Linked DNA regions of Homo sapiens. The protein of the gene in region 4 purifies or fractionates together with the protein of the main gene of each other region. This does not show direct contact. Each region holds a gene or a part of one and is shown on either strand. Other genes may lie near its edges. The genes, in order: ADAR, RBM25, LHX4, NFIA, FOXP4, KDM6A and TRPS1.

Region 1 (3,500 bases), about 94 Mb from region 4:
TGCTTTCTATAGAGGCTTTTTTGGTTAAACATGCAGCTGGTCACACATTATACTTTCTTGTGAAACTTATGAGCACTAGCTGGTGGGGAGGCTTGGTAGACATCTTTGTGTGGAATTATTTATGCTACCCAACACTTTGGGATGCGGGAGTCAGATATTGGTGGTCATAGTGGTTTTGCATCAAGATGGCATCACTCTTGCCATGCAACCGGCATGTTTTCTTAATCTCTAAGGTCTATCACAAAGTGGAAAAGCAAGGTGTAAAGTGAGGGGAGAGGTGAAGATTGTCTGTATATGTCTAGAATATTTTCTTGAAGGATCGAAAAAACTGGCAACTGTGTTTGCTTCTGGGGAAGGAGGGACACTTTTATTGTACACTCTTAACTGTTTGAATTTTCACATGTTTGGCATCCAACTTGTCCATTTTAAAGTCATTAAGGAAAAAAGCTTATAAAAATGCTATCTTGTTACTTTAAATTTGTCTCTCCTTAATAGAAGTAATGTCAGCCGGGCGCAGTGGCTTACGCCTATAATCCCAGCACTTTGGGAGGCCGAGGTGGGTGGATCATTTGAGCTCAGTAATTTGAGACCAGCCTGGCCAACATGGTAAAACCCCATCTCTACTAAAAATACAAAAAATAGCTGAGCATGGTGGTATGCCCCTGTATGCCAGCTACTCCGGAGGCTGAGCAGGAGAATTACTTGAACCCAGGAGGCGGAAGTTGCAGTGACCTGAGATTGTGCCACTGCACTCCAGCCTGGGTGATGGAGTGAGACTCCGTCTCAAAAAAAAAAACAAAAAAATCAGAAGTAATGGCATTTCATTTATTCATATTTATGTGTTATTTGCATTTCCTTTTCTGTGAACCACCTGTTCTTGTCCTTTTCCAGTTTTCTTTCAGATTGTTACTCTCATGGATATGTAAGAACTTTTAACATAATTTTTAAAAGTAGCCCTTTGCCCAACATGACCCAATTTAGAACACACATCTGCCCACTGTTTAAGCCATCTGGAAAAGGAGAGGCCCAGTCTCCCTCCAGCTGCTCTTCTACTAATTCATATCCTTCATCTCAATAAGCACCTCCTTATCTTTAAGCACAGTCCTTCAGATGATAGGTTCAGTGCATTTCCTCTTTCTCTTCTGTGAAATCTTCTGTGAAATCCTTTCTAGGACTTCAAGTCAGCCATTCATTGAGAATGTAAGAACTTACTATGAACTAGATGGAAGATACAAAAAATTGCTGCCCCTGAGTGTGTAGCAGACATATAGCCATAGCAGTATTGAAATGTGCCATTGGAGGTGAATGCAGAGTGCTGTGGGGACACAGAGGACACTGCTGCCACTGTCTGCCAGGGAGCTGAGGAAGGTTGCATAGAGAGGGGAAATGCTAATTGAGTAACTACGTTTATTAACTATCTCGTACAATAATATACTTTAGTTGCTTCTTAATGTGAATTATGCTGGGTCTTTTTTTCCTTTCTGTCTACTGTGGCTGGTGACGTTAACTAATTTTATGACTTCTTTTCTGTTTTTTTTTTTTTTTTTTTTTGGAGATGGAGTCTCACTCTGTCACCCAGGCTGGAGTGCAGTGGCGCAGTCTCAGCTCACTGCAACCTCCGCCTCCTGGGTTCAAACAATTCTCTTGCCTCAGCTCCTCGAGTAGCTGGGATTACAGGCATCTGCCACCACATCTGACTATTTTTGTATTTTTAGTAGAGACAGAGTTTCACCATGTTGGCCAGGCTGGTCTTCAACTCCTGACCTCAGATGATCCACCCGCCTCAGCCTCCCAAAGTGCTGGGATTACAGGCATGAACCACCGCGACAGCCATGACCTTTAATATCTAAATGCTGGAGACCACTCAGAGCTCCCGATTCCTCCATCTAGTTGCTTACTTGTCACCTCTGTTTGGATTAACATCCCTAATATGACATGTCCAAAGCAGAACTCTTGGGTTTTGCCCCCTTCGCTTCATTTCCCCCAAGTCTTTCCCAGCTTAGTAAGTGATACCACTGTCTACCCAGTGGCTCAAGTCAGAAACCTGAGGATCATCTTTTCCTCTATCTCCTTTACCTCCTTCGTCAACTCATCCTTAAGTCCTATTGGTTATACTTAGAATTTCTATCCCAAATCCCTTCCTCTTCTTTCCACCTCCAGCGTCAGCACTCTAATCCAAGCCACTGTCTCATCTAGACTGTCACAATAGCCTCCTAACTGATCTTTATACTTTATTTACTCAACACTTATTTATGGAGTATCTTCTATTTTTTTTAGAACAGGAACCAAACATTAACCAATAGTCACCTAAAGAAATGTAAGATCTCATATTTGATAAGTATTCCAAAGGGCTGGAGTTGCAGCGAGAATCAATTATAGCACAGTTTGACTTAGGAAGGAGAGGGGGAAGGGCTTCCCCAAGAAGTACTGCCTGAGCTGAGACTTTAAGGATGATGAAGAGAGAAAGACTGAGGGTTCTAGGCGAAGGACACTGTTAAATCCTGTGGTGGGAGAAGCGCAGAGCTGGCAAAGAGGCTGAGAGGAGGCACTTATGGCAATAGCCCCATTTGGCTAGTGGCTACCATATTGGATAGCACAGCTCTAAAGGATTCTAGTTGCATAATTAACAAACTTTATCATATATGTAAATATATCAGTATAAAACTTTGCACGTAAGAGTTCATATTCTTTTCAAACACATGGGGCAGTCATGAAATTCTCCTGGATCCCTGAGGTAAAGATACTACACAATCTGTCCCTCCTGACCGCCTTCACCATCTTCTTTTCATGCCACTGTCCCTCTCATTCTGAACTTAAGCCCACTGGCCTGCACGGGCCTGCCAGCATGGACAAAGAAAAGAGTGAAGGCATTTAGTTGCTTCGGATCATCAAGGAACAGTGAGAAACTCCATGTGGTTGAACATAAACGTTGATTCCTTTTACTGCCTGAGCTGCTAAGTCTTGAAACTGAAGCCTCTGTTATATGCAGTTAGAGTATCCAAAGCTGGGTTCTCAGCCAGTAGATTAGGATCTGGTTGAAAGCTAGGATTCTTGATGCCTTGTCTGGTACATTTCCAAGCTGTTTTGCTCCACCATGCTCTTCCCTCTGTGTTTGGAAATTACCAGCCGGAGCGGTAGAAGCCACCTCCCTGCTCCACTTGGGCACTTTATTGTCAGCGCAGCTCATGCGCCCAAGATCCATTCCTTACCCCAGAGTTAGCTTAAGCCTGCCAGGAGTCAAAAAAACAACTCCCAGCAAAACCTGGGTCCCTGGCCTAAGGCCGACCTTGACCTAATGACCTCTCCAGGTCAAGTCCCCTTGAGCTAATAGGAAGTAAATGAGGGAATGGAGTTGGGCGCTTTAAAAATCAGACAGTGTATGAAGTAACAGTGACTTGTGGGGAGAAAGGTAGTCCCTTCTGATTTCTGCTTAAGAAGAGAGTCCAAGTTGGTGCTAGCATTTCGTTAAGCCTTCCTCATACTTCATAATCTTCCTTTAT
Region 2 (3,500 bases), on a different chromosome or scaffold from region 4:
TCAGACTTAAATTAGATTCAGGGGGCAGCAGGATAACATACACTGTAGTGTATTTCTGGGGGCAGTTATTTAACTTGATCTTAGGAATACCTTTTCTTTAGAGCTGAGATTAAAATTTACATTTTATATTTGTATAGATTTAAGTTGAGTGGGGGAGATTTTAAACAGTAGGTCAGTGGTTACCAGACTTACCAAATTTTAGATGCATGGAAGAACTGTAAATTCCCATAAAGCTAATCTATTCATTGACCCCCACCATTATGATAGAGATCATATGGTGACTAATGCAAGATGAAACTCTCAGCTTGGAAAGTAACAAGGAATAGGATGTAAGTATGAGCTTCTGTTTTTTATTATATTTATGGATGCCCCCTCAGAAAAATATGCAAAGGGGTAACTGGCTTGGAAATGGGTATTTATGCATAGTAAATCCCACTCACGAGTTTTGCCTATTTGAAGCTTCTCTCAATGACAGTGCATCTGTGAATGTTCGCTGGTGTTGAAAATGATGCTTTTGAACGGTGCAATGCAAACACTGCATGAAATGTATTTTGATGGTCGAGATAATAAGGTGTTGCTGGTTCTTACTGATAGACTGAGAGATCTTTAACTCAGTGAAATGTTAAATGTTCATTTTCTCTTTTATTCTTACTTTTTCCCATTGCTTTCAAAATCTGCAGTTCACAAATAATGCCAATGAATCAGTGCTGCTGAACACTTACTATCCAGATGCCCAGCCCTTGCTCACAAACACAATGCTTTTTCAAGAATTAAATGTGTCTAAGAGCACAAACATAATTCTCCCAAAATTAATTTTGAGAGTTGAAAAGGTGGTCTATGGGAAATCATTTTAGATGAATAATTTTGGTTAGGTATAATACTGAAATTCAGGACCGAGTAAGCTTAAAAATGGTATATGGTTGTGTGTGTGGTTTACCCCCTTTTTGTTTTTATTTATTTGTTAAACCCTGTCATGTTATTGGTAAATTATGAGGAAATCATGTTTTAAGAAAAATTCAAAAATATATTTGCTTTAAAGTTTGGGAATCTGTTAGGCATTTTACTGCCTTAGTATTATTTCACTGGAGGGAATGTTTTGAATTTTCAGAATGTCTTTTCAAAATAAAAAGAAATCAAAATGAAAAACCAAAACAGTTGTTTTTTATTGGGTGGTTTGGCTAAAAGGGTTGTTTGAAACTCCAGTAACAAAAAATGAGCTCAGTGAACCTTTGCATGTTTTGGTATGAGTTTATTAAATAACCACAGACTGTCAGGGTATCAGCGTGGCAGGGGGCGTCCATTTACAGCACGGATGAGTCTGAAGAGAGAATAAGGTAAGATTTATGATTTTTTAATCTGTCCTTTCCTCTTCATGACTTTCTTACATAATTTTAGACTCACCTCATTTCCCTTCTCCAGTCTTTCTTTAAAAATATACATGTATGTTTACATGTATACCTGTATTTGTATACATGTGTGTATATATATATATATATATATCTCATATATAAACTTCAGGAAACATTTAGTATGGACTAGATTCACTCACTTTTTCATTTACTTAGAACCAAACTTTTGAAATGAGTTCTGAAACAAATGGTTATTTATATAACTGAATATAAGGAGCACAGTGAAATAAGCAAGAATTAAAAATTGAGGAATTCTACAGGAAAAATTAGTATTGGAACAGCTAAAATATTCTGTAAGTATCTATTTCAGAAATAAACAAATTTCTTTATAAGTGTATGCCATTGAGGTAAGTTTTATATAGTCTAGCCTCATTTTACAATATAAATTTTTATATTCATTGGAACTGTTTCAGAAATGAGATTTTTCCCCCTTTAATAGCTGTTAGTTTCTGTCCTCTTTCTATCATATCTTATTTCATCCCTTTGTAATTTCAATGTATTCAGTTTTGACTTTGCCCGTATTCTACTTCGATATAGACTGGCACAGCAACTGAATATATTGCTCATACATTAGCTTTCCTTTCATAACCTGCTATAAGTTCTCTGATCCATGAGGAAGAGAAAAAGAGTATCTGACAGGTAAGATTGCTTTTTAAAGTTGTTTTAAATGCATTACATGACTGAGAAAAGAAAAATGCACATTTTATTGTTGCAGTTTAAAATTTCATTTTGGTGAAACTAAACGTGAAACAAAAGGGATAAATGTGTTTTGTTTTGTTTTGTTTTACCTGTTTGGGGTATTTTTTTCTGAGTTTGTGTAGAAACCGTGTGGTACACTGGTAATCTTGTCAGGGTACAAACTTGGTCTGACTTTGTTATTTGGTTTATTTGTGAACCATGTACTTGCTCTTCCTCCCAGAAACATAGCTTGTAGGCAAGGTTAATCCAGTGTTGGCGATCCATGTCCTAGCACAGCATCTGTAAGTTAATGCACAATCGTTCCTTCCAAGGATGGATTTATCATTGTAAATATATTTTCATTGTCTTACAGGCATAATGGGCATAAGTATGTTGCTTTTAAATATTTTAAATTAAACTATTACAGTTACATATATTTTGCTTGAAGTGAGTGATTTTCAAACTTTTTGTATTTGGTGGGCTGTCCATCTTGTAATGGTGGGAGTAAATGTTTCCATAGATGATAAGGCAGTTCTTGGCTGAATTCAGCTTGTGTTTCTTTTGGAGGGTGGGCAAATCAGAGGGCAGAGATTATTTAGTTGCATTATAGGTATTCTTCTATACCACTTGCCCTTTGAAACCCTCAACTTGAGGTAATGTGCAGTCTGGGGTTTTAATTAGTATTAATAATCTTGTGGATTTACAGAAATCTATAATGCACAGAGTTGAGTTTTAACCAATGATCGTATTCATAGAAAATATTTCGAACCACCACATTCTTCATGGTCATTTTAGTTAGTACATAGTCATTGAGTGGCCAGCCACACCTGACACAATCTCCCAGCATCCAAGATTGGAGATTCCTGGTCTGTGTAGAGTATATGGTTTTGCACGAAATCTTTCTAGTCTTGTGATTGCTTCAGTTTAATTTGTCACATAAAACCACAAGTATTTAATATTAATGTATCAGTGGTTTGGTGTTTTTGTTCCCAGTACTGGGCTTTGCGCCGGGAAAAATCTGAATACTGGAGCTACAGAGTTAACTCTAAAAGTGCTTTTATTGGTTTCTAGAAACTGGAAGAAGAGAAAGGCAAAAAGGAAAAAGAAAGACAGGAAATTGAGAAAGAACGGAGAGAAAGAGAGAGGGAGCGTGAAAGGGAACGAGAAAGGCGAGAACGGGAACGAGAAAGGGAAAGAGAACGTGAACGAGAAAAGGAGAAAGAACGGGAGCGGGAACGAGAACGGGATAGGGACCGTGACCGGACAAAAGAGAGAGACCGAGATCGGGATCGAGAGAGAGATCGTGACCGGGATAGAGAAAGGAGCTCAGATCGTAATAAGGATCGCAGTCGATCAAGGTAAGGCTTTACAGAAGTTACTGTTTCCTGATAGCTTTAAGAAAACTATCGGGTA
Region 3 (3,500 bases), about 120 Mb from region 4:
TGGGACGCATAGGGACTTGGAACCAGTTTAGCTGAAGAGAGGACAAAAGGAGTAATATTACCCACTTTGAGAAACCCACGGTTGGAGACAGACTGAAGCAGCAGTTTGCTGTGGCAGCACCAAATACATGGCTGCATAGACGGCTGAATTTGGAGAGGGCTGGCTGGGGTGCCGTTGAGGCGATTTTACTTTTGTAACAATGTTTTGCCTTTCTCCCTTCCTGGAATGAGTGTTAACAATGCCCATAACAGAGATGTGGGCAAATAGGGTCCACTGCTTTTAGTAAAATTCCATCGCGGTCTGGTGGCTTGAATTTCTCTTTCTTCCTCCCTCCTTCTCCTTCCCCTGTTCCCCCAATTTCTTCTGTCTATCCCTTCCTTCCTTTGCAAAATCTTTGCAGGGAGAAACATGGGATAGTGCAGGAATTCACGACACAGGGGTTTTACTCGGCGGGGGGGGCGGGGAGGAGGGCGGTCGTGTGTCCAGCAGGCTGCACCGTGGTGGAGCCATCTCTCTTTCTAGGCGCCCTGGGAGGGAAGCACAGGTGCTGGGTATAGGACAGAAGCCGCCCTGGAGCTGGGCTCTTATTGTCTGTGGTAGGAAGAAATCAACTAAAATTAGATGCCACTGTGAGGTTTTACCTTATTTAGTCCTCAATTTTATAGGATCCCTGATCAAAATGGAGCACAAGTCAACCATTTTGAGGCATTGCTTTTGGGGGTAGGTGGACAGGTTGGGTTTAATTGGTGAAAATGAAATGGATTCTCCCTTGGAAAATGGACTTTGGGGTTAACTGTATGAGCGGCTGACTGGAAAGTCGTCTTGGGAGGTGAGTCCTACCTCCTGCTGTAATTTTGGTGGATTTCTTTTCTCAGATCTCCCCACCCTGTTCCCTCTGTCAGTCTGGGTCTAGCCACAGATGTTTAACTGCAGTACCTCACCCCCACATGTCTTTAAAGTATAATTTGCTTTAATTATGATGTTAGGGGGTTAAGAGATTGGTTCTGGGAATAGCTTAATAGAGACAAAACTTGCAGCCAAATTAATTGAAAGTTTCTTGCTATGAGGGAAAGATTGCCAAACATATGGAATACTGTTACAGAGTGAGACATTAGAAAAATACATTGTAGAGATTTAGCAATGATTAAATGTGAAAATGGAGTGGAAATAGACGTGTCTACAACATTTCCATACACAAACATGGATTTGCTTAATGTAATTTTCTGTTTTATTTGCAATTACTGAGATATATGATATCCTACTGAAGAATACTAATTACGTGACAATATATCACCTAGGAGATAATCCCTGCAAATACATATTTACATTGTGTATTTCATTTGTTACTCGACTCCTTATGTTAAAATATCCAAATTACAGCCTTAAAATGATAACATCGAAATTATCTCCAGTTTACTTTTGAATTTGTTCTTTTATTGAAGAGGTTTCTATTTTTGACTAAGCCGAAAAAGAACAAAGGAGATTTTCAAAGGCACCCCAAGCCACCAAATAAAGCAAACAGTAAAAGTGGGAAGGATTCCGGAAAGCAAGTGAAGGGAAAGGACAGCTTCAGGTGTGATCATTTCTGATGTAAGAAGGATTTTCTGACTTTTTTTCTGGTTGCTAGTCATTTGTCAAGACAAACTAGAAAAAACTAGAAATTAGATAAAAAGACGTGAGTACACTGATGCATTTTAAAACATGTCAGTGCATATGATGATAGAGAATATGATTTACCTTCAATGCGATGCTAATTTTTAAAATTAGAATTTTTCTAATATTTTTGTGGCTGGCCCAGCTCTCTTTCTTTAATGCTGCTGTCATCATTGATGTTCAATGTGCCTTTTCTCTTTATGTTTTAAAGAATTAATGTTGGAATTTTGTGCTTTAGCTGTGTTATGTGATTATTACTAGGTTGTGAAAATCCCTTAAGAGGAATTTTATAAAAACATTTTGGAAAATTCTGTTATTGTCTCTTCAAGATACGCTGATTTAGAATAAGTGAAAATATAAAAACGAGAACTATAAACGGTTCAACAAAAATGAATGTTCTTTAATGACAAAGAGCCAGGGTTGGGGGGCGGCACACACCAGATTTGTCATGGAAAACTGAGTCGTGGGCCTCAGGTTTTCCCTGCGTGGGGACTGCATGGATGAATCAGGCCTTCTTCCTTTGGTCACAATTACCAGGTGATTTAAAAGGGGAATTGTGACCAGAAAACAGGATTTTATCATCAGCGGTGATGGTGGCTACTTTGAAATGGAAAGTTTTATTTTTGAAATATTTATCCAGTAATAGACCTCTTAGTTAATTTAATTTTAATGTAACTATACCTCCGTTATAAATCTTTGACCTGGACATTTCAGAACTCAGGTATGTGTTTAGGCAGGTGTGCCACAGCTTGGTATATCCTGTAGCTTCACCTTGTTGATGCATTTTAGAATTAGTTATTCCCCGACTAAATCAATGAGCCCCCCACTGACAGTATTTCCCAAGCCTGCCTTTAGAAAACCATCTTCCTTCTTTCTTACTCAGGGAACCTGAGGCAACAGAACAGCAATGTCTGCAATTTGTTGTTTTCTCTTCCTTACATGTGGGAAAGGAATGGAAAATTTCAAGAAAAACATTTGCATACTATTTCAGTTGCATATGTGATTCCTTAAAGCCCCATTTGGCGTCTCCTTTCAGTTAGTAGTCAGTAAAGAAACTTAACAAATAAATAAAATTAAACGTTTTTGGAAATACATATTGGCCAAATGTTATTTGAGACAGAGCTCAAAAAACTGCTTACTTCTGGAGGGAAATCACCAGCAAAAAGGTTTTGGGCAAAAATCCCAGATGGAGGTGGCTTTGATTGAGCACAGGTGGAAGCCATCAGACCCAGAGTAAAAGAAGGTTTAGTCCTAATTCGGCCTCAAACTGTGTACCCGTAGGGAAGCCCCTTATTCTCAGAACCTTTTAAACGTAGACAATGAATGTCCGCTTCACAGGGTGTCTGGGAGGAGGGAATGAGCTTGCCAATTTGAAAGTACTTGACCAAGTTTGGAGTGCTGGTGGTCTTAAGGCACTCAGAGACTGGGATCACAGCTCCCATTTCACAGACACAGCCGCCCCTGGGAGCACTGCTGGCTGTCCCAAGAGGATGGCCACCTGAGGGGGAATACTGTGGGGTCTGCAAACAGGGAGACCCGGAAGTGGCTCCCATGGACCCAGCTCCTTTTCTCGAAAGGAGCAAGAAAAACCTTGTCCTGAGCATTAGGCTGTCAAGTCAAAGCATGAAACAAAAAGAACACTTCATCCAGAAGGCAGTTAAAAAGCAAAGGGAGTTAAAAAGCAAAAGCCTCACAGGAGGCACATCAAGCTGGCACATCAAAGTACAAACTTTACAAAATATTAATCTGGTCTCAGAGCATCGTTAAATAAACATTATTCCCTTTTAAAATTATTATAATAGAGGTAGGGGCTCACTATGTTGCCCAGACTGGTCTCGAACTTCTGG
Region 4 (3,500 bases):
CACACTACTTTTTTTTTTTAACTAATCATTTATGCTATTCCTGGACATTTCTTGCAAGCTAATGATACTCTTTAGTTTTGATATTCTGGAATATTTTAAATCATGACTTGAGAAAGATACATTAGAAAAAATCAATACTTTAATTGTGCATATGAGTAAAGTTATACAAAATATTGTGGACTTTTACTGGCAGGTTCTTAACCTTTGGGGAGTAATACATTGTAAATACTTTTGATGCAAAATTGGGGACTTAAGTTATTCTTAATGACTAATTGACATAGTTGTTCTTGTTTAAGGATTTTTATGATGAGATATATGGGCATTTGGTTGGCAGGTAAACAGAATCCTGTTGGACACGAATGCATGCATGCAGTTTGCAGTTTTTTGAAAAGCATATTGGGAGTATCTACAGACACTTAAAATGCCATATTAGAATGTTTATTTTAAATGCTTATTATCATTAATCAAACTTTTAAATAAGATAACATTTTAACATAGATATGAATCGTTTGGAGCTAAGTTATACTTTGCATTATAAAATGGGGATGAAACTTTAAAATGAAGTCCTCCTTTTGGTGAAAGCTCACTTGGTAGTTTAAGGTAGACTCCAGGAGTTTTTTGCATAATACAACAGAGTCTTGGTCCCTAGCATGTCTTGTATATATAAGAAAATCAGTCAATGTGAAGTTCTGTTTCAAACCTAAAATTTATGTATTTTAGATCATTTCAAGGATGAGCTCAGAATTTAGTAACGTTTAGATGCTTTGTGGTTTGGCGTATACCTTTGCAGATAAACTGTGACTTGCCCCCCATGCCTGTCACCTAAAGTATGAGAATAAGAAATATTCTCAAACATCAGAAATTTTAAAAATGTTAATGGTTTATGGCAAGAATAACAATTCCTGTATTTTTTTCTATTCTCTCTCTACTTAAAGAATGCACACGTGTTACAAAAGCTGACTACTTCTCTTTTGGATTCTTTTATTGAAAAAGAGCAGTTTTGAAAGCTAAACTTGAAACATAGAACCTGAAATTTGTGCAGAGAGGAAAAAAGTCAGTTATTGAAGTAATTTATTATGTATTAATATATACTTACTTTTAAAAGCTCAGTCATATAGAGTGTTTAAATGATTGATTATAATTTGCTAAATTTTTAAACAACACGACTATTAAATATTTTACCTTATCAGTTCACATTTGAACATTTAAAAATTTAGTAATTGTGTTAATAATAATATTCTGGACATTACTGCTACCTGTGCCTTGAAAGTATATATTTAGTTAGATATAACAAACTGAAAAAGAATGCATTTTATAATATTTGTCTGTCCTACACCATTTAGCAAAAAAGCCATCGAATCTTTCTTTGGTTTCTAATCCTCATTTATTTGAAGGTAATCTATGTTTTGGAGAGGGGGTTATGTGGCAGAGAGAAGTTATGTAACAGTGTGGATTAGTTAATCAAAAGTTAGACGTACTCCGAAAGCTTTGTGGAGGTTACTGCTTAATTTTTTAAAAAATATATTTATATTTCCTAAGAAAATGTCATGTATAAGGATCAAACATTTTAAGCAAAACAGAAAGAAACATTTAAATATTTGAAACTCAATTTTTTTTTCAATTTTAAGAGGCATCTATGAGGGTTTTCCCGGCATCTTGTAAATATTGAAAATACCAGGTTCTGATTCCCTATGAGAAAAATCCTGAAATAGTATTTGCAAAAATTAAATAATCTATTTTTTAGGTATGATTATTACTGAAAGCACTTCACAATCATATTAGTAAATTAAATGTATTCATGTATGCTTTTCTTTGTTTTTTTTTCCTCTTTCTTCCCCCTTTTTGTTTCATTCCCATAGTATTAGCAATTATGTCTTGGGCATAGATCTTTTATTTTAGCCTAATAAATATCAAATTCAATCCTTCTTTTGTATATGAACCTCCCAAATTTGTCCTAGTTTTTGACTAAAAAAATTATATGTAGTTATAATATTTAAAAGGGGAATTTAGACACTAGCAAAATGAGTAAGAAACATATCAGAATCTACATGCAATATTTTTAGGGGGAAAGCCTTTGTTTTCATTGATTGTAGAGATGATTTTTTGCTCCTAGACTTCCATAAACATTGACTGGCATCTAAATGTTTAGGATTTGCCAATCTGGCGGCTGGGCCCTGGCTGTACTACAAGTGGTGAGGTCAAGGCTGGGACAAAATTAGATATGCCTTCCTTGAAATAGGGTTAAGATTATACATTGTTATAAGCATTTAGATAAACTTCACTTACTATCTAAAGGATGGGGAGCTAGGCCCGACAGTAGTAGCTGGTGTACCCTGGTGAACATATTAAAACAGTTTTTTAATTTTCAGCAGTTTTTTTATTTCCGATCATAAGAAATGATACTGATAGTTTTCTCTCCCACCTTCCCAGACTTCCCATAGGATCCTGTGTATGATTTTGGTAACAGAATGCTCTAATCAAATTTCAAGTGAAATGAGGAATTTCTTTCTTAAGGTGACCCGCTGAAGAAAAGTTGTTTTCTTTTGTTTTCATTCTACTTATATTTTTCTTTTTGTTCATTTTCCTAGGATGAATTTCATCCTTTCATCGAAGCACTTCTGCCCCACGTCCGAGCCTTTGCCTACACATGGTTCAACCTGCAGGCCCGAAAACGAAAATACTTCAAAAAACATGAAAAGCGTATGTCAAAAGAAGAAGAGAGAGCCGTGAAGGATGAATTGCTAAGTGAAAAACCAGAGGTCAAGCAGAAGTGGGCATCTCGACTTCTGGCAAAGTTGCGGAAAGATATCCGACCCGAATATCGAGAGGATTTTGTTCTTACAGTTACAGGGAAAAAACCTCCATGTTGTGTTCTTTCCAACCCAGACCAGAAAGGCAAGATGCGAAGAATTGACTGCCTCCGCCAGGCAGATAAAGTCTGGAGGTTGGACCTTGTTATGGTGATTTTGTTTAAAGGTATTCCGCTGGAAAGTACTGATGGCGAGCGCCTTGTAAAGTCCCCACAATGCTCTAATCCAGGGCTCTGTGTCCAACCCCATCACATAGGGGTTTCTGTTAAGGAACTCGATTTATATTTGGCATACTTTGTGCATGCAGCAGGTAAGTGCGATGGTGAGAATTCCTCCCACTTTCTTGTGTGTGTTTCTTTCCTGATGGCCTCCGCGTTATGCCGGATTCTTCCTGAGCTCCCCAAGTTGCAGGCCACGTACATGAAGCCAGTGTGGTTTCAAAGATTGAGAGAGGTGCCACCTTCATTCAGGTGAAAAAGCATAGCTTTGAGCGAATTCTCACTAAGTTCAGCTCTTTTGGTAAGTAGTGTTTTCAGAGGCGTTGGTAATCAGATATGTGATATGTTTAAATCACATTTTTTGATGAGGGGATGAGAGAAGCCTCGTGAAAACCCTTTTAATAAAGAGTATATTTTAACTGACAAATGATCTAGTTTAAAAGCATTTATTTTGGTATTGAGGCAATATTTT
Region 5 (3,500 bases), on a different chromosome or scaffold from region 4:
CCACAACCTCAGCCTGCACAAGTGCTTCGTCCGCGTGGAGAACGTCAAGGGTGCCGTGTGGACTGTGGACGAGCGGGAGTATCAGAAGCGGAGACCGCCAAAGATGACAGGGTATGTGGGTCCAGAGCTGGATGGGCTGTACCTGCCCAGGGGGCAGGAGCCAACTCACCCCCACCCCCTACCTCTCCAGGGTACACATGTGCACCAGATCCTTCCTGGCTGGGGGAAGGGGTGTGGGGAGAAAGGAGCAGAGGAGACTAGTGCTTGGGGACAGGGGGCTGGAATCCGGAAGTGATGGATAATCAGAAGGCAGACATTTATGTCCTCTTCTGTCCTCACTCTGACTGAGGGAAGGGGCCAAGAAGGAGGCCTGGTAGCAAAGAGAGACAGGGGCCCCAAGTAGCCCTGGCCAGAGCTGGCACACAGGCAGATGCCAGCCAACGGGCCATGGGTGAGGGGCTGCCACCCCCAGGGCACCCGCTCTCTCAGCTCATCAGGATGACTAGACCTCTGAGGTCCCGCGACCCCACCAATTCATCTTACGGCAGAGGAGAGCCAGTGAGGGCCAGGGGCTGGCAGGAGGCCCCAGAGCAGATTTGTGGCAGAGCTGGTTCCAGGACCAGGTCTCTGCCCTCCTGGTCTTTTGTGCTCAGCTTCACTTCACCACCTGGCATTTTATTTATTTACTTATTTATTTATTATTTTTTTAATTTTATTATTTTATTCATTTATTTTTTTTGAGAAGGAGTTTTGTTCTTGTTGCCCAGGCTAGAGTGCAATGGCACGATCTCAGCTCACTGGAACCTCCACTTCCCGGGTTCAAGCAATTCTCCTGCCCCAGCCTTTCGGGTAGCTAGAATTACAGGTGCCCACGACCACGCCCGGCTAATTTTTTTTGTATTTAGTAGAAATGTGGTTTCACCACGTTGGTCAGGCTGGTCTCGAATTCCCAACTTCAGGTGATCCACCTGCCTTGGCCTCCCAAAGTGCTAGGATTATAGGCGTGCACCAGCGCACCTGGCCTATTATTTTTTTGAGACAGAGTCTTGCTCTGTTGCCCAGGCTGGAGTGCAGTGGCACGATTTTGGCTCACTGCAACCTCCACCTTGTGGGTTCAAGCGATTCTCCTGCCTTAGCCTCCCGAGAAGCTGAAATTACAGGCGCCCACCACCACACCCAGCTAATTATTTTACTTTTGGTAGAGACGGGGTTTCACCCTGTTGACCAGGCTGATCTCGAACTCCTGACCTCAGGTGATCTGCCCGCATCGGCCTCCCAAAATGCTGGGATTACAGGCGTGAGCTACCGCACCTAGCCTCCACCTGGCAGTTTAAACAGAAACTGAGGAGCCTGGGACAGGGTCAGGACCTCCCTTTGGCTTCCACGTAGCAGCAGTGGCCTTCTCCCGACCTCAAACAGCCCCACCCCAGCCACCTGCTTGCTGTGCCCCTTGGGCCAGAGCCCCTGGGTAAGGAGAGGAGAGCAAGTTAGATGGATGTCTCTGAGGTGTGGGGTGTCTGCTCCCCTCAAAGATGCCTGCTTACCAGGCAGGAGCCTTTGCACCCCAGGCAGTGTGCAGCCTGGAGAATGGAGGGAAGCCATCCCCTGGTGAATGCCTAGGGGCCAGTCTCCAGGCCTGGCTGCGCTTGCACCTCTGCTTCTCACCAGTTTGGTGACCTTTGGCTGTTTCCTTAAGCTCTGTGAGAGCTCTGTGATGGTGTCATCACTGGAAGAGGGACAGCCCCCAGCCACTGCTTTTCCTGTCCCAACTCCCGAACACCTTCCCGTGCAGAGAAGCCTTCTGTATGGAGGCTTCCATACAGAAGCCTCCATGTGGGACAGGCTGAGCATATGTCTGACATGTCCCAAAATCTAGGATGGCAAGACAGTGTGGGCAGACCAGGTGTGTAACTACTGAGACTATAGATTAGACCTTGCCAAACATTGGAAAATCTAGACCGGAGAGAAAACGGGTGGGGGGGCAGCATGCTGTGAAGGCAGACACTGGGGGGATGCCAGTTCCCACTTCCCAGCTCCGAGACCTGGACAGGTCCCTGAACCAAGCCCATCGCACCCACCTGTGAAGGGGCTGCTCCTGCAGGGCCAGTTGAGCGTGAAGACCGAATCAGACCAAGTACACACACAGCTCCAAGACAGCGGCTGATCCGCCCTGGCCTCCCGGAATAGGGAATGGGACCCATTCCCAGCACAGGCCGTTACTTAGTGAGAGTAAAGAGATGCGAATGAAGAGCTAAGTGAATGAGTGAGCCAAAGATGGCCTTCTCTGTCCTCCAGGAGCCCCACCCTGGTGAAGAACATGATCTCTGGCCTCAGCTATGGAGCACTTAATGCCAGCTACCAGGTGACCTGCCCAGAGCCCACCCACTCACCTCTACCTCCCGCCCCCTTGCTTTCTCATACAAGAGACCCCCATCCTCCCCTGCAGAGGACTCACCAGAGGAGGGAAGGAGGGTGAAGACCCAAACTCTCCGAGACCCCACCTCTCTGCCCCACCCCAACTCGGGGCCAGCCTCCACCTCTGCTTTCAAGGCTGGGTTCAGACAAGGCAGGCAGCTGGGAGGATGGCATACCTATAGCATCCCCTTTCCTGGTTTGTCAGTCTGGGGGTTCTCTGTTCCCTGGGAGAGGGGATAAGCCAGGCCCAGGTTCCAGGAAAGCTAGGAGGTAGGAGGTCGGGGGGTCAGAGTTCCAGCCATGGGGGAGGGGTGCTACATTCAAAGGCTGAGTTGGGGCTTGGGGGTTGCCCAGACAGATCCGCCCGTGGGGCCAGTAGGCAGACACACAGGCAGCTCTCTAGTGGGCGGGGAAGGCACAGCACTTGACTGAGTGTGCCCCATCCTGTGGAGCCACTGACGAGGCCCAACCCTGTGCCCCTGCAGGCCGCCCTGGCCGAGAGCAGCTTCCCCCTCCTCAACAGCCCTGGCATGCTGAACCCTGGCTCCGCCAGCAGCCTGCTGCCCCTCAGCCACGATGACGTGGGTGCCCCCGTGGAGCCGCTGCCCAGCAACGGCAGCAGCAGCCCTCCTCGCCTCTCCCCGCCCCAGTACAGGTGAGCACACAGCACGGACCCCCACCCACCCCAGCACCCCTCAACCACCAGGGAGGAGGCGTCATCCCCCACCCTGGGTGGGGTTCCCCATCCCACCCCCACCACGCCTCTCCCCAGGACAAGTGGCTTCTCTCTTCCTTCCCTCAGCCCTCTCAGCCCTCCCTTGTCCCACCTGCCTGTTCTTATCCCCTCTCCCCACCTCCCCACCTTCCCACCTTCTCCTCCCCATTTTCCCCCTTTCTTATTTTTCCTCCTCCTCTCTTCTCTTTTTTTTTTTTTTTTTTAAGACGGAGTCTCGCTCTGTCACCCAGGCTGGAGTGTAATGGCAAGATCTTGGCTCACTGCAACCTCTGCCTCCTGGGTTCAAGTGATTCTCCTGCCTCAGCCTCCCAAGTAGCTGGAATTATAGGTGCCTGCCACCATGCCCAGC
Region 6 (3,500 bases), on a different chromosome or scaffold from region 4:
CGCCATGTTGGCCAGACTGGTCTTGCACTCCTGACCTCAAGTGATCCACCTACCTCAGCCTCCCAAAGTGCTGAGATTACAGGTGTGAGCCACTGCACCCAGCCCTAAGTATTAATTCTTATAAGTTAAATGGCAGTACATTCAATTAAAATGCACAAAAGTAAAATGAGCCTGCATTTACCAGAATAATGAAGAGCATTCATTCTTGTTTTTAATTTCTTTTTTTTTTTTTAAACAGGACATGGTTTACACTACATAAAGTATAAATATAGGGTATATAGGGTAAAGTTTTCTTCTAACTCTGGCCCCTACCCACTCAAAATGTGGCTGGTATTACTAATTTCCTATCTATCATTCCAGAGGTATGTTATGTATGTACAAGCAAATATACATCCCCCCCTTTCTCACATGTATTATTATTTTTCTTCTTTTTTACACAAATGATAGGATTCTTATTTGCTGTTAACAACATATTTTACAGACTTCTGCATGTCAATATGTGAAGAGCTTCCTTGTTCTTTTATGGTTACATCATATTTCTTTATATAGATGTAACACCTTTATTTAAGCAGATCAGTAATTTTGGACATTCAGGTTGTCTTCAGACTTTGCTTATTCCAGACAGTGCTGCTTTTAGCATACTTGTCAATATATTTTTAAGCTTCAAGAGTTTTCTCTGTGAATACCTAAGAATACTGTATGGATGAGTAAAATTTCATGCCCATCTATTACAAAGAACTCATAGTAAATCTTGTTCAGATGAATGCTTAGTTCATTCTTATATTTCTCAAGCTTATTAAAGGACTTCATCTTGGAGTGTGTGACTGTTGGTCAGAAGACAGTGTGTTTGACCAGATAGTGGTTCTGAGTTTAGTCATTTCAGGGAAAGGTTGCTTAGAATAATGATCTTATTTCCTAAATATATCTTTGACTATATTCTCTTTTTGTTCTTCTTCTAGCATTTGGAACAGCTCCGCGCAAATAGAAATAATTTAAATCCAGCACAGAAACTGATGCTGGAACAGCTGGAAAGTCAGTTTGTCTTAATGCAACAACACCAAGTGTGTATAGCATATTTTTCCCTGAAATTTGTTAGCATTTTGAGTATTTTTATTGACTCTAATGTCATTTTAGAGCATGTTTATGTTCATTTTTACTTTCTACTGGTATTTGACAGAATTTAGTAATCTCTGTATTTTAAAATACTGGTAATTGACGGAGATTTTTAGACAAAAGCAACTATAATTTTGAAGAAGATACTTTGTATTTTATTTATTTACATGATATTTCACATGTATTCTAAGGGTTTGTTTACATTATTTAGTACTGAGGCAAGGTTTTTAGGGCTTATTTAGTTTACAGGATCTGGCATATATGTAACAGAATGAAATTTTGAGATGTCCCCTCTTTTGTGATTGAGAGAAGGACCTATAAGTTCGGGGTCGTTTTCTATAATTTTCAGCTGCTTCCTTTTGTCATTACTAATGGGATTTTTTTTTTTTGAAACCGACTTTTGCTTTTTCAAGGAAGTTTATTTTAAAATGAACAAATACAATTTCTTGTTTTTAAAGTATGTATTTCTCAACTTAGAGAAATTAAGCATTTGGGTAAAATCACACATTCCCTAATTATACATCTTCATATTCATCTGGGGATTCATAGAGAATCCCCTATAGATTCTCTTCCCTATAGATTACACAACCAGCATTTACTTTTCCTTTGTTTTTTTGACAGATGAGACCAACAGGAGTTGCACAGGTACGATCTACTGGAATTCCTAATGGGCCAACAGCTGACTCATCACTGCCTACAAACTCAGTCTCTGGCCAGCAGCCACAGCTTGCTCTGACCAGAGTGCCTAGCGTCTCTCAGCCTGGAGTCCGTCCTGCCTGCCCTGGGCAGCCTTTGGCCAATGGACCCTTTTCTGCAGGCCATGTTCCCTGTAGCACATCAAGAACGCTGGGAAGTACAGACACTATTTTGATAGGCAATAATCATATAACAGGAAGTGGAAGTAATGGAAACGTGCCTTACCTGCAGCGAAACGCACTCACTCTACCTCATAACCGCACAAACCTGACCAGCAGCGCAGAGGAGCCGTGGAAAAACCAACTATCTAACTCCACTCAGGTAATAGGAGGACTAGCTTCCTTGTTGGCTTTTCACATAAATGTTTTTACTGGGTTTTATACACTTTGAGAGAAGAAGAGAGAAGTGTTTGGGGAACTGGTTTTATAAGAATTTTGTGGCACTACAATGTTACTACATTGTGATTCATTATGTACATACATGAGTATATCTTTGTTCCCTTTGTACAGTCTCTACCGACATAGATAACTTAGCAAATTTACAAAGGAAGAAAATAGATCATATAAATCACCCAAAATGCACCATTAATTTACAGTGGCATCATAAGCACATTTATGTAATATTACTTAGTTCATTTCTGCATAAACTGCCTACTTAAGATCAGGCACTAAACTAGGTGTTAGGTATTTGCTTTAGTGGGAGAAAAAGACCAGTGAATAAGTATTTACCATAATGACTGTGAAGTGTGACTTTGGTGGGAAAGTTCTATCAGAGTACCTACGAGAGCACATAACCAAGATGTCAGAGTCTTCCAGAAGCTAGAGTTTAGGGGAGGAGAGGGCTGGTGAAGTGTGCCTAGAAGATAGGTTATGAAGAGGGGAGGGTGAAATAAGAGGCTGAGGGAGAGGCCAAATTTATCTTGAAGGCAAAGTTGATCCACTAAAGTTTTTGAAACAGAGTAATGAATTGCATGCACATTATTTTTGTCAAGGAAATGGGTCATAATGTATTCAACGTTAGCACATTCGTTAGACATTTAATTTCTAAGTTTTTACTTCTGAATGTTTATGTGCATAGTATTTCCCATATTTTGGATTGTTTCCATGATATGGGTACTCGCTGAGGTGAAACTGAAGGGCCAAAGAGTAAGTTTTAAGAAAATGCTCTCAATATGTATAGCCAAATTGCTTGTACTTTTATTAATTTACTATGAGAAATATTTGACTTAAAAAGAGAAATATTTGGCTGATTGTCGGTTAGTCTTATATTATTGATAAAACTGAAATAAGTTCTTTTTCTAAGATTTTTAAGTTTATTCTTGAATTAATATCCTTGGTGGGACCCTGATCTAAAGTGATTAGTACTTTATTCATTCTTAGAGAAATACTGAGTACCTACTAGGTTCATTTCCTACTCAAGGCTCTGGGAATACATCAATAAAGAAAATATACTGAGATGTCTCTACTTGGTGTAGGTAAATAGATAGTAAACAAATAAGCAATACATATATAACATTAGATGATGGTTGTGATTAGTGCTATGGAAAAAAGCACTAATAGAAAGGGAACAGCAGAATACTAGAGATTGGTGGTAGGAGAGTTGCAGTTATAAATCAGAAGGGCAGGGAAGGCTTCTCTGAAAGATAGCATTTGGATGAGAGTTACAGGAGTGAGCCTTGAAGCTATTTGTGA
Region 7 (3,934 bases), on a different chromosome or scaffold from region 4:
TTCTCCTTTTAGCACAAAATTACTTTAAACTGACTTTCACCAGAGGAAAAACATGCCACTTAAAGTCACCCAACTGAAGAAAATGAAGTCCAAACGCCCAAGAAATGTTTACTTTGTTTTTAACACCTACTATACTTTGAATCCTGTCATGGTAATGTTTTATGCATTGTTGATCTTTAGAAGTCAAAAAAAAAAAAAAAAGCTCAATCCAGTGAACTTTATGTTGAGGCAATTTCTCTTAATAATGAGAGTATATGGAGATGTAAAGTAGGTAAAAAAGAATGTCACGCTTAATTCAGAGTTCCTTATCTGCTACTAAAACCCAAACTGCATGTATTAATCTTGCAGCATTTGAATAATGTTCCCATTTTGTCTGTTTTGTGGTACCCCCTTAAAGCACCCATTGAGTTTCTGGCTTCTCTTTAGCTCAGAAAACCATAGCAACCTCAGTCCGCACTTCTCCAACTCAGGATAGAGTTCAAGTTGTTCTCCTCAAGCCTTCTTGCCGTGAAAATCGTGGGGAATCCTGATCACCAACTAGGTGTCCTAAGACTTCTTGCCACAGATAAAGGGCGGGGGAGGGGGCGCACACGCACACACACATCCTGCGTCGTTTAATTGGGAGAGAGAAGGGAAAGTAACAACAGAAAAGGTAAAAGGACTTTGAGAGTTCTTTAAATTGTTTCTGTTAGCATCTCTGAGTGTCTGGGGAACGTCGGTTTGGCGGCCACGCACTGCCCCCCACCTGCCCCCCACTACCCCAAGGTAAGTCCTCGTCTTTATCACATTATTCCTAACGCGTTCGGATTTTTCCTCCTTTTCCAGCCCGCACGTTCACAGACGGGAGGTGGGGGAGGGAGGAGGGGGGAGAGGCGGGGCGGGAAGGTAGCCGGGTCCCTGCACCGCGCCGCTCTCATTTGCGGCGCTCCGACTCGGGCGAAGTTCTCGCGCAGCCGGCTCGCCGCGGCCGGGGCCGGTCCCGGCGGGCGGCGGCGGCGGGTGCTCGGAGCCGGGCGGGGCGGCGGCGGCGGCGCGGGGACGCGCGCTGTCTCTTTAAGGGAGCTCGGTCTGGGGTGGCGCTTTCCTCCGCGAAGGCTCCTTTGATATTAATAGTGTTGGTGTCTTGAAACTGACGTAATGCGCGGAGACTGAGGTCCTGACAAGCGATAACATTTCTGATAAAGACCCGATCTTACTGCAATCTCTAGCGTCCTCTTTTTTGGTGCTGCTGGTTTCTCCAGACCTCGCGTCCTCTCGATTGCTCTCTCGCCTTCCTATTTCTTTTTTTTTTTTTTAAACAAAAAACAACACCCCCTCCCCTCTCCCACCCGGCACCGGGCACATCCTTGCTCTATTTCCTTTCTCTTTCTCTCTCTCTCTCTCTCTCTCTCTTTTTTAATAAGGGTGGGGGAGGGAAAGGGGGGGGAGGCAGGAAAGACCTTTTTCTCTCCCCCCCGCAATAATCCAAGATCAACTCTGCAAACAACAGAAGACGGTTCATGGCTTTGGCCGCCGCGCCACCATCTTTCGGGCTGCCGAGGGTGTTCTTGACGATTAATCAACAGGTAAGGAGGGGAGGCCCGAGCGGGCCGCGGGGCCGGGGGCTGCGGGGGGCGCGGGGGGCGCGGGCGCCCCTCGGCCGGGCCCGGGGCGCCGCGACGCGAGTGCAGCGCCCGCTCGTGTGCGCGCAAAATGTGGGCGATCGCGAGCGGGGAGCCCTGGGAATTAAAAGTGACTTTCTTTGAAAAAAAAAAAAAAAAAAAAAAAAGCAGAGGGAGAGTGTGCAGAAAGCCAAGCGCAGGCTTCTCGGGTTTCACATGCATTTTCTTTCTTCCTTTTTGAGCGTGTGATTTCTTTCTTTCTTTCTTCTCTTCTGCTCCCTTTTTCCCCCTTCCTCTCCTCCTTTTGGTGGGTCTGAGGCATCTGAGCTTTGGAAACCAGCGACTTCAAACTGCAGTAGCCCCTGGAGTCAGCAGGGTCAAGTTCAGCCGCCGGGGAGGAGGAAAAACAAATCCCCATTTGCCAAAAAAAGAAGTTTCAGGCCGGTGCCCCCTCCCCCTCGCAGCCCCACTCCCCCTCGCTGTCTCTTTCTGGCTGATTTTAATTCTCTCCTACCGGGCGCAGCGGAGGAGCTGGAGGTGGTTGGACCCGAGGGGCCGCCGCCGCCGCCGCCACTGCAAGTTTTCTGGGGGCTCGTGACAAGCGGGGCGCAGACTAGGCACCAGCATGCAGAGTAGTAAGTTGGGCGAACTCGGGAGGGTCGGGAGGGTCTCAGAGACGGGCCTCCGTATGGTCTCCAAAGTGGGAAAACAGCACAGGACTGCCTTTGGCTTTGAAGAGTTTGCAAATGCAGGCTTCAAACTTTTTTCCCTTAAAGGCCCAGCTGGGCTCTGGAGAAGGCGGGTGTCGCATCCCTTGGTGCACCCGCCTCAGAGCGGCTCAGGACAGCTTGGCCGAGCGGTCTGTGCCCTGTCCGTACCATGTGGCAGGGCCTTGCAGCCCGGGCGCTTCCGTAGGGGCTGAGGAAGGGGCAGACTTCCTCTGCGATGCGGTTGATGCGCCATGTGTCGCGCGGGTCAGGGGACACTGGCCGGTGATTAAATGCCTGACAGCGGTGGGACATCCAAGCGGACAGACGCTTTGCCTTCTGTCTGGTTCCTGTTTGGGATCTAGAGAAACGCATCTTTGAAAGGCCAAGGCAAACATCGCTGTCCCTCCAAATAACTCCAGGATTATAGGACCCCAGGAATAATTTGAGGGTGAGGCGGCGGTGGGAGCTGTTTGAAGTGTAAAGCTGTTTTTGTGGCTGGGAAAGCTTTTTCGTTAGTACCTGTCTGAGATGGTGGTGTTTCCCCCTTTCCCCAGGGAAGTCAGCAACTGTTTTATGGCCCCAGGACTCTAAAGCAATTTAAGTTAGAGGGTGAGAAGGACTGGTGGGTTTCAGAGGGAATCTTGGACTTATTAAATTTTAGGACCGGCTTTACTTCCCTCTATCTTTTTAGGCCTCATATTTGATGCTTTGAAAGTTTTTTGAGTAAGCCATTGATCTTAATGATGAATCTAAATTATGATAGAATATTCATTCTTATGCCATTTTGGAAAATCACGGCTAGAGTTTAAGCGAGGTAAGTGAAGTGAGAAGCTCAGCGGAGGAGTTAAATCTGAGACAAGTTAGGCCTATTCATTGAACTTTTGTAGATTCATTGAACTTTTGTAAACACACCAGGTGAACAGGAAAGGAAAGGGTCTGGGAGAGATAATAAGTACAAAAGAAAAATACAGATAGGGCCTGAGACAAAATTACAAAGAAATGATAACTCTGGGCCTGGTTGTTGGCTAAAACTTGATTGTTCAAAGCAAAAATAAAATAGGAACCTTCCAACAATTCTTCAAAGTCCTCCAGCTCTGAAGCTAAAACCTATGGATCTTGCTGGCATCATGTTACTTTCCTGCTGGTTTTAGAAAAAGTTGATCATTTAGAAAAGGCTGCCAGAGTTAAAAATGCAAGGGACAGCAGAGGAAAGTCATGCGGGCAGCCAGTTCTTGACGTGGACAAAATGAGAATGAAAGTTTCTGAACTCACTGTTGTGAAGTTTTACATGCCGCTCATTTGCTTAGAAGGCTCTCTCAGATATTCCACCAGTTAACGTATAAAAGCAAACAGGATCTAAAATCGTGTGGGCTTTTTTTTTTTTCTTTCCCCAAGTATGCCAGGGTTGTGAATAAATACAGGGTTTGTATGGGAAGATGAAGCGTTTCCTGTAAGTTCTGATGCTGACAGGACAGTCTGGAAATGATACCAACATTTTGAGGATTTTTTTTTTTTACCTTTAAGTGAAAGTTTATTAATGATATGCTTAATCTTAACAAGTCAAACATATTCTTAGAGTTTCTCTCTCCTTGGATTTCATAACTTCCTTTTAAAGCTACACCT

Evidence for each region.
Region 1: the proteins of NFIA (region 4) and ADAR purify together in Homo sapiens (affinity purification with mass spectrometry, with the first as the bait; one large-scale study listed by BioGRID). This does not show direct contact.
Region 2: the proteins of NFIA (region 4) and RBM25 fractionate together in Homo sapiens (co-fractionation; one large-scale study listed by BioGRID). This does not show direct contact.
Region 3: the proteins of NFIA (region 4) and LHX4 purify together in Homo sapiens (co-immunoprecipitation; one large-scale study listed by IntAct). This does not show direct contact.
Region 5: the proteins of NFIA (region 4) and FOXP4 purify together in Homo sapiens (affinity purification with mass spectrometry, with the first as the bait; one large-scale study listed by BioGRID). This does not show direct contact.
Region 6: the proteins of NFIA (region 4) and KDM6A purify together in Homo sapiens (affinity purification with mass spectrometry, with the first as the bait; one large-scale study listed by BioGRID). This does not show direct contact.
Region 7: the proteins of NFIA (region 4) and TRPS1 purify together in Homo sapiens (affinity purification with mass spectrometry, with the first as the bait; one large-scale study listed by BioGRID). This does not show direct contact.

Annotation. Positions count from the first base shown.
Region 1 is NC_000001.11:154,591,187-154,594,686, reverse strand, and holds part of ADAR (double-stranded RNA-specific adenosine deaminase), read left to right. Parts: intron 1-3,500. UniProt on the Homo sapiens protein: Catalyzes the hydrolytic deamination of adenosine to inosine in double-stranded RNA (dsRNA) referred to as A-to-I RNA editing.
Region 2 is NC_000014.9:73,100,034-73,103,533, forward strand, and holds part of RBM25 (RNA-binding protein 25), read left to right. Parts: intron 1-3,158; coding exon 3,159-3,445; intron 3,446-3,500. UniProt on the Homo sapiens protein: RNA-binding protein that acts as a regulator of alternative pre-mRNA splicing. Involved in apoptotic cell death through the regulation of the apoptotic factor BCL2L1 isoform expression.
Region 3 is NC_000001.11:180,236,764-180,240,263, forward strand, and holds part of LHX4 (LIM/homeobox protein Lhx4), read left to right. Parts: intron 1-3,500. UniProt on the Homo sapiens protein: May play a critical role in the development of respiratory control mechanisms and in the normal growth and maturation of the lung. Binds preferentially to methylated DNA.
Region 4 is NC_000001.11:61,085,561-61,089,060, forward strand, and holds part of NFIA (nuclear factor 1 A-type), read left to right. Parts: intron 1-2,588; coding exon 2,589-3,120; intron 3,121-3,500.
Region 5 is NC_000006.12:41,594,881-41,598,380, forward strand, and holds part of FOXP4 (forkhead box protein P4), read left to right. Parts: coding exon 1-111; intron 112-2,295; coding exon 2,296-2,362; intron 2,363-2,900; coding exon 2,901-3,070; intron 3,071-3,500. UniProt on the Homo sapiens protein: Transcriptional repressor that represses lung-specific expression.
Region 6 is NC_000023.11:45,061,688-45,065,187, forward strand, and holds part of KDM6A (lysine-specific demethylase 6A), read left to right. Parts: intron 1-959; coding exon 960-1,061; intron 1,062-1,734; coding exon 1,735-2,130; intron 2,131-3,500. UniProt on the Homo sapiens protein: Histone demethylase that specifically demethylates 'Lys-27' of histone H3, thereby playing a central role in histone code. Demethylates trimethylated and dimethylated but not monomethylated H3 'Lys-27'.
Region 7 is NC_000008.11:115,666,176-115,670,109, reverse strand, and holds the start of TRPS1 (zinc finger transcription factor Trps1), read left to right. Parts: upstream 1-1,134; 5' UTR 1,135-1,565; intron 1,566-2,096; exon of another isoform or gene 2,097-2,226; coding exon of another isoform or gene 2,227-2,236; intron 2,237-3,934. UniProt on the Homo sapiens protein: Transcriptional repressor. Binds specifically to GATA sequences and represses expression of GATA-regulated genes at selected sites and stages in vertebrate development. Regulates chondrocyte proliferation and differentiation.